2 separate regions of the Homo sapiens genome follow, and region 2 is linked to region 1. Evidence: fine-mapped expression QTL. Tissue or cell type: whole blood. Region 1 holds a variant in brackets; the other region holds the start of a gene. All regions are shown on one strand. Distances are from middle to middle.

Evidence for each region. PIP is the estimated chance that this variant, and not a neighbour inherited with it, causes the effect.
Region 2: PDCD1LG2 starts here. The variant in region 1 is fine-mapped to the expression of PDCD1LG2 in whole blood (TOPMed, PIP above 0.99).

What each region holds. Positions count from the first base shown.
Region 1 is chr9:5,461,950-5,470,725 of GRCh38, forward strand. It overlaps CD274 (CD274 molecule), which reads left to right. Exons shown (of 7, transcript NM_014143.4): 4 at 885-1,172; 5 at 3,550-3,657; 6 at 4,821-4,880; 7 at 5,891-8,605. The coding sequence ends at 5,913. All of the region lies in intron 2 of INCR1 (interferon stimulated noncoding RNA 1), which reads right to left. Among named protein-coding and RNA genes, the nearest start is that of CD274, 16 kb to the left of the region's middle. The variant A/G (reference allele first, on the strand shown) is at 4,136.
Region 2 is chr9:5,505,943-5,514,301 of GRCh38, forward strand. PDCD1LG2 (programmed cell death 1 ligand 2) reads left to right here and starts at 4,589. Exons shown (of 7, transcript NM_025239.4): 1 at 4,589-4,861. All of the region lies in intron 2 of INCR1 (interferon stimulated noncoding RNA 1), which reads right to left. RefSeq lists enhancers at 3,137-4,336, 4,278-4,357, 4,418-4,477, 4,638-4,687.

The DNA of each region.
Region 1 (8,776 bases):
GGAGGAATGGAATAAATTATGCAGTTTAGTTATTAATAATGTACTAACGTCCTTAGTTATGACGATTGTACCATGGTAATGTAAGATACTAACAATAGAGGAAACCGGGTAAGGAGTATACAGTAACTCTATACTATCTTTGCAACTTTTTTGTAAATTTAAAACTTCTAAAATAAAGAACAAATTTAAACATTAAAAAGTATCACCAGGAACATATATCACTGTTTACAGATGAAATACTATGTATTTTCATATCTAATTTCTGATCATTGACTTCAAATCAGAAAAGTGAATGACACCTCAAAATCAGGTTTTCTGTTTACTGAAGTCTAAGAAAAGAAAGCATACCAGCTGGAGAGATTCATGTTTATAAAGACAGATTTATAACAACAAAAATAAAATATCCAAGAATAAATTTAAGAAGAAGCACTTTACTGAGAAACATATGAAAACCTGAACAAATGGAGAGGGATATTTTGTATTTGAATAGAAAGACTTCTGGTTTAAAGATAATTCTCTTTAAATTATTTTTTGTAGAAATTTAAGGGGTACAAGAGCAGTGTTGTCACATGGATATATTACATAGTGGTGAAGTCTGGGGTTTTAGTGTAAATTAATCTTTACATTTTGTTTGAGCCCAATAAATGTACCAACATGATTTTTATAGAAAGATAGTCATTCCTATTAATCCAAACTTGTCCCAACTTTGAATTGAATTGAGGCAGAGCTAGCAGGTGTTCCCCACGGCTGAGGCATCTGAACATTAAGCATATCCCTCTGAGAACCAGCCTGCATTGATACTCTTTCTAATGTGGACAGCATCAAGCTATGTACGTAGTTCTGTGCTCAGCAAAAGCCCTGACTTCTTTTTGTTTATGTCCTAGCCCCATACAACAAAATCAACCAAAGAATTTTGGTTGTGGATCCAGTCACCTCTGAACATGAACTGACATGTCAGGCTGAGGGCTACCCCAAGGCCGAAGTCATCTGGACAAGCAGTGACCATCAAGTCCTGAGTGGTAAGACCACCACCACCAATTCCAAGAGAGAGGAGAAGCTTTTCAATGTGACCAGCACACTGAGAATCAACACAACAACTAATGAGATTTTCTACTGCACTTTTAGGAGATTAGATCCTGAGGAAAACCATACAGCTGAATTGGTCATCCCAGGTAATATTCTGAATGTGTCCATTAAAATATGTCTAACACTGTCCCCTAGCACCTAGCATGATGTCTGCCTATCATAGTCATTCAGTGATTGTTGAATAAATGAATGAATGAATAACACTATGTTTACAAAATATATCCTAATTCCTCACCTCCATTCATCCAAACCATATTGTTACTTAATAAACATTCAGCAGATATTTATGGAATATACCTTTTGTTCCATGCATTGTAGTACTCATTGGATACACATAGAATAATAAGACTCAGTTCACACTCTTCAGGAAACAGATAAAAAACTAAGAAACAAACAAAAAACAGGCAATCCAACACCATGTGGGAAATGCTTTCATAGCCGGGAAACCTGGGGAATACCTGAGAGGAATACTCAATTCAGGCCTTGTTTCAGGAATCCAAATCCTGGCACATCAGAGCTGCTTCCCTCTTTCCAGGGTGGCAGGAAATAAATGGAACATATTTTTCTATCTTATGCCAAACATGAGGGACCCTTTCTCCCCGGTGCCTCTCCCAAGGTAGTCTACAATATTTCAACTCTAGCAGTCTGCTTAGTGCATAGAACATGAGGCTGTGTGTCCCTGGGCAAATTACTAGACTTCTGTGTGCTTCACTTTCCCTGTAGGATTATAATCTACTGAGCAAGCTTATTGTAAGGGTCAGATTAGCAACAGTGTATGAAAATGATTTGAGACCATTGCCTGCACAAATTCAACTATTTTTTTTTATCTCACTACTCTACAGAAGTAGGTAGGGTGGGAGACAGAGTCTGATGAGAGGCTCAGAATGTGAAAGAAAGTGAGGCGAGTGAGCATGATATTTAATATAAACACAAAGATATTCTGAGAAGAGCTGCTCACTGCCCCCTCCCCCAATACATGTTGATAGGAAAATGCCACGTACTTCAGCAAAAACAACTGAAAAATTAGATAGAAAAGTCAATCAATAGGAAAAGATAATCCAGGACGGTGTTGTGAACAGAAAGAGGGGGAAAAAACTTTAGAAAATGATGGGGATGCTCTTACTGGGGTACGAGTCCTCAGGTATTGAACTGGCTTTCAGTAAAAGCTAGATTAGTGGGTTCCTGCCATTTACAAGCTGTTTTATGACAACTTACTTGTTGGGTGGCCTACAGTAACTCACCTAACTGCACTGAGTCTGTTTCCTCATCTGTAAATTGGGGATTTTTTTTTAAATACCTGGCATGCCTAACTCATAAAGTTGTTCTGAAACTGAAATAAAACATACGTGAACAGGCATTGTAAACTGTAAGTTACGGAAAAAGCTGGCTGTTGTTGTGTCTTTAAAGTTTCACCTGGGTAGTCAAAGATGGATCATGGGTCTCAGTGGAGAGCTGAGCCAGGCAGGAGCTGACTAAGGGTGAGAGGTGGGAGTTAGCAGCCTCTGAACATCTGTGTACCATGGGACCCCCTTTCCTCCTGCATGGTACCCCAGACAAGGAGCCTAGTAAGAGATACTAATGGCTTGTTGTCCAGAGATGTTCAAACTGCAGAGAAAGATAAGACAACAAGCATTGGCCTCCAATCATGATGACAGATAGGAGGAGGTGGGAGCTCCTTAGCAGTGCTGGTTGGCCTTCCATGTTCTACTGTGGGCCATCTCTGCCATGTACTGTAGGCTACTAGCTTCTATATTAAAGAATGCAAGAGGGGCCAGGAGCGGAGGCTCATGCCTGTAATCTCAGCACTTTGGGAGGCCAAGGTGGGCAGATCACTTGAGGTCAGGAGTTTGTGACCAGCCTGGCCAACATGGTGAAACTCTGCCTTTACTAAAAATATAAAAATTAGCTGGGTGTGGTGGTGTGCACCTGTAATCCCAGCTACTCGGGAGACTGAGGCACAAGAATTGCTTGAACCTGGGAGGCGGAAGTTGCAGTGAGCCCAGATTGCGCCACTGCACTCCACCCTGGGCAACAGAGAAAGACTCTGCCTCAAAAAAAAAAAAAAAAAGCAAGAGGAAGTGAAATAATCAAGGCCGCCATTTAATAGTGAGCAGCCACTCCATGTGGTACTGTGCAAGCACATTATAAATATTAGCCTCACAAGAAATGTATTAGCATTTGTATTTTGTACACTGGTTAAGTATCTTGCCCAAGACCTCAAAACTGGTTAAGGGCAGCAGAATTTAGCCCCAGCACCACCTTTTCAAAGCCTGGGCTTCTCACACTTCTCCATGCTGTTCCCATTTTAACACAGGTATCTCGCCATTCCAGCCACTCAAACTTTGGCATTTAAGAAAATTATCCTAAAGCTAAACTAAACTTCAAGGATGACCATTCTCCTGACCCCTTCCCATCAAAATTTTATCTTTAGTCAGTTTGTTTTCGTTTTGTTTTGTTTTTCAGAACTACCTCTGGCACATCCTCCAAATGAAAGGACTCACTTGGTAATTCTGGGAGCCATCTTATTATGCCTTGGTGTAGCACTGACATTCATCTTCCGTTTAAGAAAAGGTAGTATTTCCTTAATTGCAGTGGTCTCCACTGGGGGTGAGGAAGGGGTGAGAATTGGATCATGGCTGCAAGGAAACCCGACTTAACCTCTGCAAGGTGGTGCAAAGGCATTCCACTGTTCAACAGCAATTATATTGAAGCTGAGTGGGATCACTGGGTGAAGATGAAGCGTAAGGGGTGAGGGGCAGGAGAATGGGTATGGATGGAGGTAGAAGATGCAGTGTCATACAGTTTTTTTCTATCATGAAAATAACCACAGACTTACAGAAGAGAAAGAGCTAAAATGCCCGTCATTTTCAGTTGCATTTTAGTCTTGCATTAGTTGCAACCAGCTGGTTTCTGGGTACCCTAAGTAATAAAAATAGTTCCTCTGTAGAACTGTAGTATGTTTACCATAGAGTATTTTGCAAAATTTTTGGTAGAGGATGTTACATAATTTGCATGTGTTCATTTCTCCATTTACCTGTGGGAACAATTA[A/G]AATCCAGGAAAATGAGTATATTCAAATAATTTCCTCCCATTTAAGATGAGTCAGAGTAAATAATTCCTCCAATACTTAGAGAAGTATACCAAGAGATCCAGTGATGGTATAGAGTTGTCTGATGTTAAATAGGGAAGTAGAATATGGAAGGGGATTCCAATAGTCGTTGAAAAATTCCCCATAACCCCTTACATGGGGGAAAGTAGTGTTAACTGAGAGAGTAGAGATAAGCTGTTTCCAAAAATTATATTCTTAACAGGACTGAGATAGCCAGAATATAAGGATCAAGTTTCAATGACAGTAAGATCCTGAGATGGAGTTGATTTGCACAAAGAAATAATTGTTGCCAGCATGCATTTTGAATATTTCTCTGGAAAAAAAGATTAGTTGGCAGTAGAAATGGATAGAAATCAATAGATATTAAAATACCTCAGAATTTGGTTCATCTCTGGGAAAAGATGAAAAATAAAAGTGTATACTCCTCAAGAACATCTAGGATCAAAAGCATGTGCCCTACACTATTGAATTAATTAACCTCATAAGTTGGGACCTGTGGAATAAGGATGTCCACCAGACTTCCTAGGGATTACAAATGTTTCACAGAACTTGAAATTTAAACTTGGGTCACTGTATGGGATGTAGAGCTGTGCTATATGGAAATAAAAATGATTTCTTTTTCTCAAGGGAGAATGATGGATGTGAAAAAATGTGGCATCCAAGATACAAACTCAAAGAAGCAAAGTGGTAAGAATATCAGAAGGAATTGGGAAGTAAAAGTCAAAGGAAACAAAAAGCTAAAGCAATAACAAAGAGAAATCCATCAGTCATAATCTCCTCTCCTTTTAAAGAATGCTGGTTCCCCTTTGCCTCACAGCTAACACAAGAACTCCTCCACCGTCTGAGGAGGTTTAGGAGCAGGGAAGGGGAAGGAGTCAGCTTCATTTGCTAATCTTCTGTTGCCCTGCACCCTAGCAGCTCCTTGCAGCAGGGGACAAGGATGACTTAGGTGGATGGATAATTAATTGATTCTAAAATATTGTGTGTCAGTATTGTAATACTATGTTAATTGCACCATGCACGGTATCTCATTTAATCCCCCACCCCTTGCCATTACCAAAGAGAGAGAGAGAGAGAGAGAGAGAAATACTAGAATTTATCCTCATTTTACAGTAGAGAAAACAGAGGGTCAAGAAGATAATGTAAAGTGCCCAAGAACACACAGCTGATCACAAAAATCAAGCTTGGGGGCCATTAGCCTAACCACAGACCCTTACTCTTAACCCATCTGCTTCAATCCATTTTGCTACAAATGTTTACATTTATAAGCAGGGCAGAAAAACCTCATCCAGGTTATTGAACTAAGAAGAAAGTTATATTAAGGTTTCTAATTTTTTTAATGTAGTTAGAAACCAAACTTAACAATGAGCCCAAGTTTAAAGCAGTCTAATTAACCTGGACAAGCTCAGGCAAGTTTCATTCTGTGGCCCATAGCATCATCTGTGTTGTAAAGCTAAGTAGCAAATGTTGTTTGGGTCATGCTGGGGGACAAGCCATCCCAATTTGCTCAGGACTGAGGGGTTTTCCAGGATATCATGTAAGGATAATTGGGTACAAATATAACCTGCTGCTTTCTCTCATTTCAAATTTATCATTTATCATATCAGCAACTATGAGTTATGTTTTTTATTAGATTTCTTGTTACTTTTTCCCCAGACCACTTCCCATGAAATTAATATACTATTATCACTCTCCAGATACACATTTGGAGGAGACGTAATCCAGCATTGGAACTTCTGATCTTCAAGCAGGGATTCTCAACCTGTGGTTTAGGGGTTCATCGGGGCTGAGCGTGACAAGAGGAAGGAATGGGCCCGTGGGATGCAGGCAATGTGGGACTTAAAAGGCCCAAGCACTGAAAATGGAACCTGGCGAAAGCAGAGGAGGAGAATGAAGAAAGATGGAGTCAAACAGGGAGCCTGGAGGGAGACCTTGATACTTTCAAATGCCTGAGGGGCTCATCGACGCCTGTGACAGGGAGAAAGGATACTTCTGAACAAGGAGCCTCCAAGCAAATCATCCATTGCTCATCCTAGGAAGACGGGTTGAGAATCCCTAATTTGAGGGTCAGTTCCTGCAGAAGTGCCCTTTGCCTCCACTCAATGCCTCAATTTGTTTTCTGCATGACTGAGAGTCTCAGTGTTGGAACGGGACAGTATTTATGTATGAGTTTTTCCTATTTATTTTGAGTCTGTGAGGTCTTCTTGTCATGTGAGTGTGGTTGTGAATGATTTCTTTTGAAGATATATTGTAGTAGATGTTACAATTTTGTCGCCAAACTAAACTTGCTGCTTAATGATTTGCTCACATCTAGTAAAACATGGAGTATTTGTAAGGTGCTTGGTCTCCTCTATAACTACAAGTATACATTGGAAGCATAAAGATCAAACCGTTGGTTGCATAGGATGTCACCTTTATTTAACCCATTAATACTCTGGTTGACCTAATCTTATTCTCAGACCTCAAGTGTCTGTGCAGTATCTGTTCCATTTAAATATCAGCTTTACAATTATGTGGTAGCCTACACACATAATCTCATTTCATCGCTGTAACCACCCTGTTGTGATAACCACTATTATTTTACCCATCGTACAGCTGAGGAAGCAAACAGATTAAGTAACTTGCCCAAACCAGTAAATAGCAGACCTCAGACTGCCACCCACTGTCCTTTTATAATACAATTTACAGCTATATTTTACTTTAAGCAATTCTTTTATTCAAAAACCATTTATTAAGTGCCCTTGCAATATCAATCGCTGTGCCAGGCATTGAATCTACAGATGTGAGCAAGACAAAGTACCTGTCCTCAAGGAGCTCATAGTATAATGAGGAGATTAACAAGAAAATGTATTATTACAATTTAGTCCAGTGTCATAGCATAAGGATGATGCGAGGGGAAAACCCGAGCAGTGTTGCCAAGAGGAGGAAATAGGCCAATGTGGTCTGGGACGGTTGGATATACTTAAACATCTTAATAATCAGAGTAATTTTCATTTACAAAGAGAGGTCGGTACTTAAAATAACCCTGAAAAATAACACTGGAATTCCTTTTCTAGCATTATATTTATTCCTGATTTGCCTTTGCCATATAATCTAATGCTTGTTTATATAGTGTCTGGTATTGTTTAACAGTTCTGTCTTTTCTATTTAAATGCCACTAAATTTTAAATTCATACCTTTCCATGATTCAAAATTCAAAAGATCCCATGGGAGATGGTTGGAAAATCTCCACTTCATCCTCCAAGCCATTCAAGTTTCCTTTCCAGAAGCAACTGCTACTGCCTTTCATTCATATGTTCTTCTAAAGATAGTCTACATTTGGAAATGTATGTTAAAAGCACGTATTTTTAAAATTTTTTTCCTAAATAGTAACACATTGTATGTCTGCTGTGTACTTTGCTATTTTTATTTATTTTAGTGTTTCTTATATAGCAGATGGAATGAATTTGAAGTTCCCAGGGCTGAGGATCCATGCCTTCTTTGTTTCTAAGTTATCTTTCCCATAGCTTTTCATTATCTTTCATATGATCCAGTATATGTTAAATATGTCCTACATATACATTTAGACAACCACCATTTGTTAAGTATTTGCTCTAGGACAGAGTTTGGATTTGTTTATGTTTGCTCAAAAGGAGACCCATGGGCTCTCCAGGGTGCACTGAGTCAATCTAGTCCTAAAAAGCAATCTTATTATTAACTCTGTATGACAGAATCATGTCTGGAACTTTTGTTTTCTGCTTTCTGTCAAGTATAAACTTCACTTTGATGCTGTACTTGCAAAATCACATTTTCTTTCTGGAAATTCCGGCAGTGTACCTTGACTGCTAGCTACCCTGTGCCAGAAAAGCCTCATTCGTTGTGCTTGAACCCTTGAATGCCACCAGCTGTCATCACTACACAGCCCTCCTAAGAGGCTTCCTGGAGGTTTCGAGATTCAGATGCCCTGGGAGATCCCAGAGTTTCCTTTCCCTCTTGGCCATATTCTGGTGTCAATGACAAGGAGTACCTTGGCTTTGCCACATGTCAAGGCTGAAGAAACAGTGTCTCCAACAGAGCTCCTTGTGTTATCTGTTTGTACATGTGCATTTGTACAGTAATTGGTGTGACAGTGTTCTTTGTGTGAATTACAGGCAAGAATTGTGGCTGAGCAAGGCACATAGTCTACTCAGTCTATTCCTAAGTCCTAACTCCTCCTTGTGGTGTTGGATTTGTAAGGCACTTTATCCCTTTTGTCTCATGTTTCATCGTAAATGGCATAGGCAGAGATGATACCTAATTCTGCATTTGATTGTCACTTTTTGTACCTGCATTAATTTAATAAAATATTCTTATTTATTTTGTTACTTGGTACACCAGCATGTCCATTTTCTTGTTTATTTTGTGTTTAATAAAATGTTCAGTTTAACATCCCAGTGGAGAAAGTTACTTGGAATATTTGCAGCCTTGTTCCTAGTTCTTTTTTCATTGCTTATACAGCATGTTTTTATACAGCATGCTTTTGAATCCTGCACAATGAAAAAAGTATCAAAAGATTTTATTTTAAAAAAGAATGTATTGAAAATTTTCATTCTCTCTCATTCGGC
Region 2 (8,359 bases), 44 kb after region 1:
AGATGTAGAAAGGTTTTTTATAAAATTCAACATTTCTTTATGTTAAAAATGCTCAACAAACTAGGTATTGAAAGAACATGCCTCAAAATAAGAGCCAACTATGACGAACTCACAGCCAACATCATACTGAATAGGCAAAGGCTGGAAGCATTCCCCTTGAAAACCAGCACAAGACAAAAATGCCCTCTCTCACCACTCCTATTCAACATAGTATTGGAAGTCCTGGCCAGAGCACTCAGGCAAGAGAAAGAAAGAAAAGGCATCCAAATAGGAAGAAGGGAAGTTAAACAATCCCTGTTTGCAGATGACATGATTCTATATCTAGAAAACCCCTAGTCTCAGCCCAAATGCTCCTTAAGCTGATAAACAACTTCAGCAAAGTTTCAGGATACAAAATAAATGTACAAAAATCACTAGCATTCCTATACACCAGCAACAGCGAAGCCGAGAGCCAAATCAGGAACACAATTGCACTTGCAATTTCCACAAAAAAAAAAAAAATACCTACGAATACAGCTAAACAGGGAGGTGAAAGAGCTCTACAATGAGAATTACAAAATACTGCTAGAAGAAATTAGAGATTACACAAACAAATGGGAAAACATTCCATGCTCATGGATAGGAAGAATCAATATCATTAAAACGACCAAAGCGGTTTATAGATTCAATGCTGTTTCCACCAAACTACCAGTGATATTCTTCACTGAACTAGAAAAAAATATTTTAAAATTTATATGGAACCAACAAAGAGCCCAAATAGCCAAGGCAATCAAAGCAAAAAGAACAAAGCCAGAGGCATCATCCTACCAGACTTCAAACTATACTACAAGGGTACAGTAACCAAAACACCATGGTTCTGGTACAAAAACAGACACATAGACCAATGGAACAGAATAGAGAACCCAGAAATAAGGCTGCACACCTACAATTATCTGATCTTTGACAAAGCTGACAAAAACAAGCAATGGAGAAAGGACTTCCTACTCAATAAATGGGGCTGGGATAACTGGCTAGCCATATACAGAAGATGGAAACTAGACTCCTTCCTTACACCAGATACAGAAATCAACTTAAGATGGATTAACAACTTAAATGTAAAACCTAAAACTATAAAAAACCCTGGAAGACAATATAGGCAATACCATTCTGGACATAGAAGTGAGTGAAGATTTCATGACAAAGACACCAAAAGCAATTGCAACAAAAGCAAAAATTGACAAATGGGATCTAATTAAACTAAAGAGCTTCTACACAGCAACAGAAACTATCAACAAAGTAAACACACAACCTACAGAATGGGAGAAAAGTTTTGCAAACTATGCATCTGACAAAGGTCTAATATCCAGTATCTATAAGGAACTTAAACAAATTTACAAGAAGAAAACAAACAACCCAATTAAAAAGTGGGCAAAGGACATGAACAGGCGTTTTTCAAAAGAAGACATACACATGGCCAACAAGCATATAAAAAAGCTCAATATTACTTATCATTAAAGAAATGCAAATCCAAATCACAATGAGAGATCCTCTCACACCAGTCAGAATGGCTATTATTAAAAAGTTAATAAGTTGGCCGGGTGCGGTGGCTCACACCTGTAATCCCAGCACTTTGGAAGGCTGAGGCAGGTAGATCACAAGGTCAGGAGATCCAGACCATCCAGGCTAACATGGTGAAACCCCGTCTCTGCTAAAAATACAAAAAAATTAGCCGGGCGTGGTGGCGGGCGCCTGTAGTCCCAGCTACTCAGGAGGCTGAGGCAGGAGAATGGCATGAACCCAGGAGGTGGAGCTTGCAGTGAGCTGAGATCTCACCACTGTACTCCAGCCTGGAAGACAGAGTGAGACTCCATCTCAAAAAAAAAAAGTTAATAAACAACATGCTGACAAGGTTATGGAGAAAAGGGAATGCTTATACACTATTGGTGGAGTGTAAATTAGTTCAACCATTATGGAAAGCAGTGTGGCAATTCCTCAAAGAGCTAAAAACAGAACTACCATTCAATCCAGCAATCCCATTACTGGGTATATACCCAAAGAAATGTAAATCATTCTATCACAAAGACACATGCACACACATGTTCATCATAGCACTATTCACAATAGCAAAGACATGGAATCAACCTAAATGCCCATCAACGACAGACTGGATAAAGAAAATGTGGTACATATACACCAAGGAATACTATAGAGCCGTAAAAAAGAGCATGTCCTTTGCGGGAACATGGATGGAGCTGGAAGTCATTATGCTTAGCAAATTAATGCAGGAACAGAAAACCAAATACCACATGTGTTCACATATAAGTGGGAGCTAAGTGATAAGAACACATGGACACAAAGAGGGGAACAACACAAACTGGAGCCTAGCTGAGGGTGGAGGCCCCAGGGAGGAGGGAGATGAGCAAAAAAAAAAAAAAAAAAAAAAAAAAAAAAAAAAAAAATGACTGGGTTCTAGGCTTAGTATCTAGGGGACAAAATAATCTGTATGACAAACCTCCATGACACGAGTTTACCTATGTAAAATAAAAGTTTAACAAAAAACTAAAAAAGTTACCTATGTAAAACAAAAGTTTAACAAAAAACTAAAAAAAGTTACCTCCACCCAGAAATGCCTTTATTAACACTTTGGTTTGTAACCCTCCATTATTTTCTCTAGACATATAGATTTATGAGGCAGGCTAATGTGCTGAGACACTAGCTTGAGTTTCATTTGGCCTTGCTGTGAATATACCTGGGCCTTCCTTTGCTTCAGGATGCCCTAAACTGTGGCAAAGCAGAGCTGAACTGCCCAAAGGAAAGTGTGAAGAGGAGAGGCAGGCCAAGCCTGGAGAAAGGCTACCCAAGAGAGAGGAAAGGAAACTGTGGTGAGTGCACCTCACTCCTAAAGAAGGACAGGAACTCTGGTAGGTGAGGTGTGTTTTCCATAGATACTAAAACTCAAAGCCACACAGGGGACATATGTCCATTCCTCAGCCAGTCACTGTGGCCAGGAACAGAGGGTCAGGTAAGAGAATGGCAACTCCTAAGGAAACCACATGCCTGGAGCCGTGGGTGTAGAAGCAGATCCCCAGAGGAAGCACGGGTCCCACAGACACAGTCCCAACTCTTGCCGTCTAGGCAGCCACTCCCATCTGTAGGTACTACACAGCTTCGTAGTACTTCTTAAAGTACTTCTTGTTCAAGCGATGGGACGAAAAGAGGATGCAGGACAAGGAGGAGGAAAGGAGATCCTTGCTTTTGTAGAAGAAACAAGGAGGCAGGGAAGGCTTAGAGGACAGGCAAGGAGAGATGTTTTCTTAAAAACATCCTCTGTCTGAGTGTTCAGCCCCACATCTCTGCTGGTCCTACCCCTATAAGCACAAGGAAAAGGGCGGGAGGCAGCAGGAGAAGGATTGATCATTCAGGCCTATATTCAAGTTTGCCTTTTCTTGCCATGTGGTTTTAATCTCACCAATCACAAGCCTGAAGGTATAGTGGGGCCACTGAGGTCCGAGTTCAAATTCAGCCATGCAACTAAGGAAACATTGTTTGATCTTGGTCCTGTTTTCTCATGTGTAAAATGGGTCTAACTCTAAACCACACATTGCACTGAGAATGAAATGAGGCACTATGAAATGAAGTGAGGTTAGTTGAATAATGTTCCCCCCAAATTCATGTCTACTGAGGACCTCAGAATGTGACTATATTTGGAAGTAGGGTCTACGCAGATGTAGTCTAAATGAGGTCATACTGCATTAGGGTGGGCACTAATCAAACGGATGGTATCCTCATAAGAGGAGAGGAATGTAGAGATACACACAGAAAAGAATGTCATTTGAAGATGGAGGCAGAGATTGGAGTGATACAACTATAAGTCAGGGAATGCCAAGGACTTGAGGTCATGTGTTACAGAAGCCCTAGGAAATGAGTCAATTTCCTGGCACAGCACTAAGACATGCTGGTATTCTTCATTCCATCCCTTTCCCCTATTCCTAAATGTGCTCCAGGGACAATGGGGAAGCTGGAGCACATATAAGAATAGGGGAAAGAGAGGGAATAAAAGGGTATTAAAAACTCTCAAGGTATGTTAAAAAAAAGACTCTCAACAAACCAGGTATTGAAGGAACATACCTCAAAATAATAAGAGCCATCTATGATGAACCCACAGCCAACATCACACTGAATAGGCAAAAGCTGGAAGGATGCCCCTTGAAAACCGGCACAAGACAAGGCTGCCTTCTCTCACCACTCCTATTCACCATACTATTGGAAGTCCTGGCCAGAGCAATCAGGCAAGAGAAAGAAAGAAAAGGCATCCAAGAAGGAAGAGAGGAAGTCAAACTACCCATGTTTGCAGATGACATAATTTTATATCTAGAAAATCCCACAGTCTCAGCCCAAAAGCTCCTTAAGCTGATAAACTTCAGAAAGTTTCAGGATCCCACATGAACATACAAAAATCACTAGTATTCCTAAACACCAACCATAGCTAAGCCAAGAGCCAAATCAGGAATGCAATCCCATTCACAGACAAACTGCTAAAAGCAAAACCAAAACTTTCCAAATAAGCCAGGCTTTCGTCAGTTCCTCAGAACTAGTTCTGGTTTGACTCACTCTCATGTTACGGCAAACCTTAAGCTGAATGAACAACTTTTCTTCTCTTGAATATATCTTAACGCCAAATTTTGAGTGCTTTTTTGTTACCCATCCTCATATGTCCCAGCTAGAAAGAATCCTGGGTTGGAGCTACTGCATGTTGATTGTTTTGTTTTTCCTTTTGGCTGTTCATTTTGGTGGCTACTATAAGGAAATCTAACACAAACAGCAACTGTTTTTTGTTGTTTACTTTTGCATCTTTACTTGTGGAGCTGTGGCAAGTCCTCATGTGAGTAACGAGTGGGTTGAGATACTCTCATACTATTATGTTGTGGACCATGATGAGGCTGCCAGGGTGGGGGAAGGGTGGCCTACCTTCTCTCCACACCATTTGAGGCAAGAGACATTCTGCCTCAGAAATTGTGCTGAGGGGCACAAATAAGCTAATGTCCTCCTGCCCCAGATTTCTCTCACTTGTTCCTATGCATATTGTTCTTGTTGCTCAGTTTTATAAGGTGAGATATTTTCTGCACCAAATATGTGCACTGTAAAATAATATAACTATTCTTAAGATTGTCTCTCAGCTTAGAGTTTTCGGAGGCTTAATGGTGAAGAACTTAAAAATCTGTTTTCCTATGACTGACATCTGTTTGTGATTATCCATTTAGCAGACGGTGATCCCTCCAGGCTGGCCTTTGTTTACAAGCTATGCCTAAGAGGCAGCTGTTGGTGGAGGGGGAACAAAAACAAAAAACCCAAAACTATTATCTTAATAACTTATAGAGGTAATCATTATTGAACAAAAGCATGATTTGGGGACTATGGAAAGGCTTATTCTTTCCATATAAAATGATCAGCGAAAAGGTAGAAAAATTAAACAGAACTGAAATAATTGCTATTGATTGCTCACCGCCTGGATGCACTGAGTAGAAGAGCAAAGGCAATGGGTTCATGTGGAGGGGATGGAGGTGGAGAGGCTAAGCCTGAGTGAGATTACCAACTAATCAGGACTTTTAACCCAAAAATACTATGGCTCTGAGGGGCAGGGAATGAGAGACCTAAATTGACAAAATGCAGAGTAAAAATATTCAGTGTGAGCAGTAATGAGACAGTTGTATCAGGGTCAAATACGGAGTTGGCCTGGATGTCCTCCAAGCTCCTTTCCAAGCCTAAGATTCTGTGAGTGGATGAACAATCCTGGTCCTGCTGCTCTTGCCACTGGAACCTGATCTATTTGCCTTCATTATTTGAGGTCTCCCCATCATCAGGCTCTTTGTTGTCTGCTGCTTCAGGGTGTCTTCTCCCCAGATTTCTCCTGTTGGTGAGCTTTTCCATTGAACTGGAGCTCCTCACAGGCAAGAAGCACACCTTTAAGGTTCTCTGAGTCCCAAGTTCCTAGTGCAGTACCTGGCAATACACATAGGTGCTTAGTGGGTGCTTGCCGAATTGTTGAATGGATTTATTTGATGAAATGTCAGGAGAATCACCAGAAATGAAATGTTCGTGTAATGGACAGGGGGAAGTTTGAGGTTGATTTGAAAAAGGAGATGGTAGAGACAGTATTATGGGTCATGCTTCAGAGTTTATTTGCTTTACAATACATTGGACAGCAACCAGTAGATTGTTGTGTGTCATTTTAATTCCACATGCTAATGTCCAAATATGTCATATGTCTTAATTGTTGCATACGTGGGTTACTCTGTAAAGGGGCAACTGTAGTATCACCTCCTCATGCCACACCCTGCTCCACTGTAGCTGGGCTCGATAACCTTCAAATCAACTCACAGAATTCCAGGACAGACAAGAGCATCTGAAAGGTTATCTAGCCCCAGTCACCTCTGATGCCTTCCAGCTGTCTCTAACACACCTGTGGGCTGACTTCCAGTTCTTAGTCTTCACGGCTCCCTATGATGAACTGCCCCTGCTTTGAGGGATTTTCCTCCATTGCCTCAGAAGTACTGCCCTGGGGGAGCTTCTGATGCTCTTCTGACCACCTTGTCTCTGCCTTTTTCACTAGTCCTCTGTTCCTGCTCTCCAAATTTTGGGACGTTCCTGAGTTCAGATCTTTTCTTTATAATCTTTCTTTTATATTCTCCCCATCAGATGGTTCATTCATTCCTCAATATTAACTAACATTTCCATATTAGAAATAACTTCCTTATCTTTAGCCCTAAATTTTGTCCCAAACTCTGGACCTACAATTTTTTGGAATGCTTATGCCTTGCCCAGACTAAAACCAAACTTACTGTCTTCCCTCTAAAATCAGCTCCCCATCTTCTATTTCTCCCTGCCACCCTTCCTCCCCCATGGCTCCAATATTGTCTTGCCAGTCTGGTCTTAAAACCACAGTCAATCTTGTTGCTTTTCTCTTTGTCTCTTGTGCATGGCTGATCAGCAGTCAATTGTTTTGTCAATTGTCTTATATGTTTCTTCTTCCTCTTCCTTGCTTCCTTTTTCTGACCTGAAGTTAGGGCCTTGTTACCAAACATCTAGATGAATACAGTGACCCCCTAATTGAGAGGCTGTCTACCAATTCCACCCACCCTCAATTCTATACTCAAAAAAAAAATTAGATGTAATCTTTTTCAGATACTCCTTTGGTATTGTCACTTAGTTTTTGAGTGACTGCCACTATTTCCCGATTGGCAGCTCTGCCTGGCATTAAGCTCTTGACATTCTCAACCTAAGTGTCCAGCCAAGTTACTCTGTTCATTGTCCCCTCAACACGCCTGTGCATTTGCACCTCTGAGACTGCTTCTGAGTCAGCTATGCACTGCCCTTTAGAATAGCTTCAACCCCAAATCCTACCAGTGCTTCAAAGGCCCAGTTCAAATCCTACCCCTCTGGGAAGTCTCCCTTCCTTTAGTCAACTTCTAGGGCTTTTGCAATTTTATCACTTGTTTTACATCAGTTTTACTATTTTTCATGTGTGAGAGTTTTAACCTTCCAATTATGGTACAATGTCTTTAAGGGCAAGGGCCCTTTCTTAGAGGAAACCCTCTATGAATTCTCCAATGATAAATTATTCTATGAATTCTCACAACTTTCTAATATAAAGGCTTATAAAAAGTGGGAACTCACTGTTTATTGCTTAAAAAATTGAGATTTAATTTGAACTTAAATGCTCTATTAAATTGAGTAGAATAGCATCTTAAGGCTACTGGTAGTCTATCTATGCCACAGATGGTTTAGAGATCAAATAATTACTCATATACCTATGACAGCAGAGTACTGGCTGTAAGATCCCCCCAAAACTCAAATACCTATTGGGTTTGTCAGGCAACAAAAATAAGTGAATCCAGCTAGGTCTAATACAATGGAAAATGGTAGGACCTGGGGCAAACTCTGCATAACTTGCCCAAAGGCATTCAAATTCAGATTATGTTCAGACATTGCTAATTACAATTAGTGTCTTAGACACTTGGCTTCAAAACAGTGGTTAGTTCAGGTATTTCAGATCAATTGGGTATGCATTTATCTAGGTCTTCATGGATAGCCGGGCTCTACTAGACACTGGGAGAGGGAAGAGGCAAATGGGATAAGACTGGCAGTATTTAACAAAGAATGAAGTATTTTACAAACATGATCCTTTAGGCTGGTTATTGTTACACAAAGGAATGATTTGCTAGGATTCTTGAGATACTTCCATAGAATGTCTATGCCTCACTTATTGCACAGACCAGAGAATTCCATAAAAGCACTGGCTGTGTCTTATTTACCCTTGTATACTAGAGCTTGGCACATAGTAAATACCAAGTAAATGTTTTGAATAAAAGAAAGAGATAAT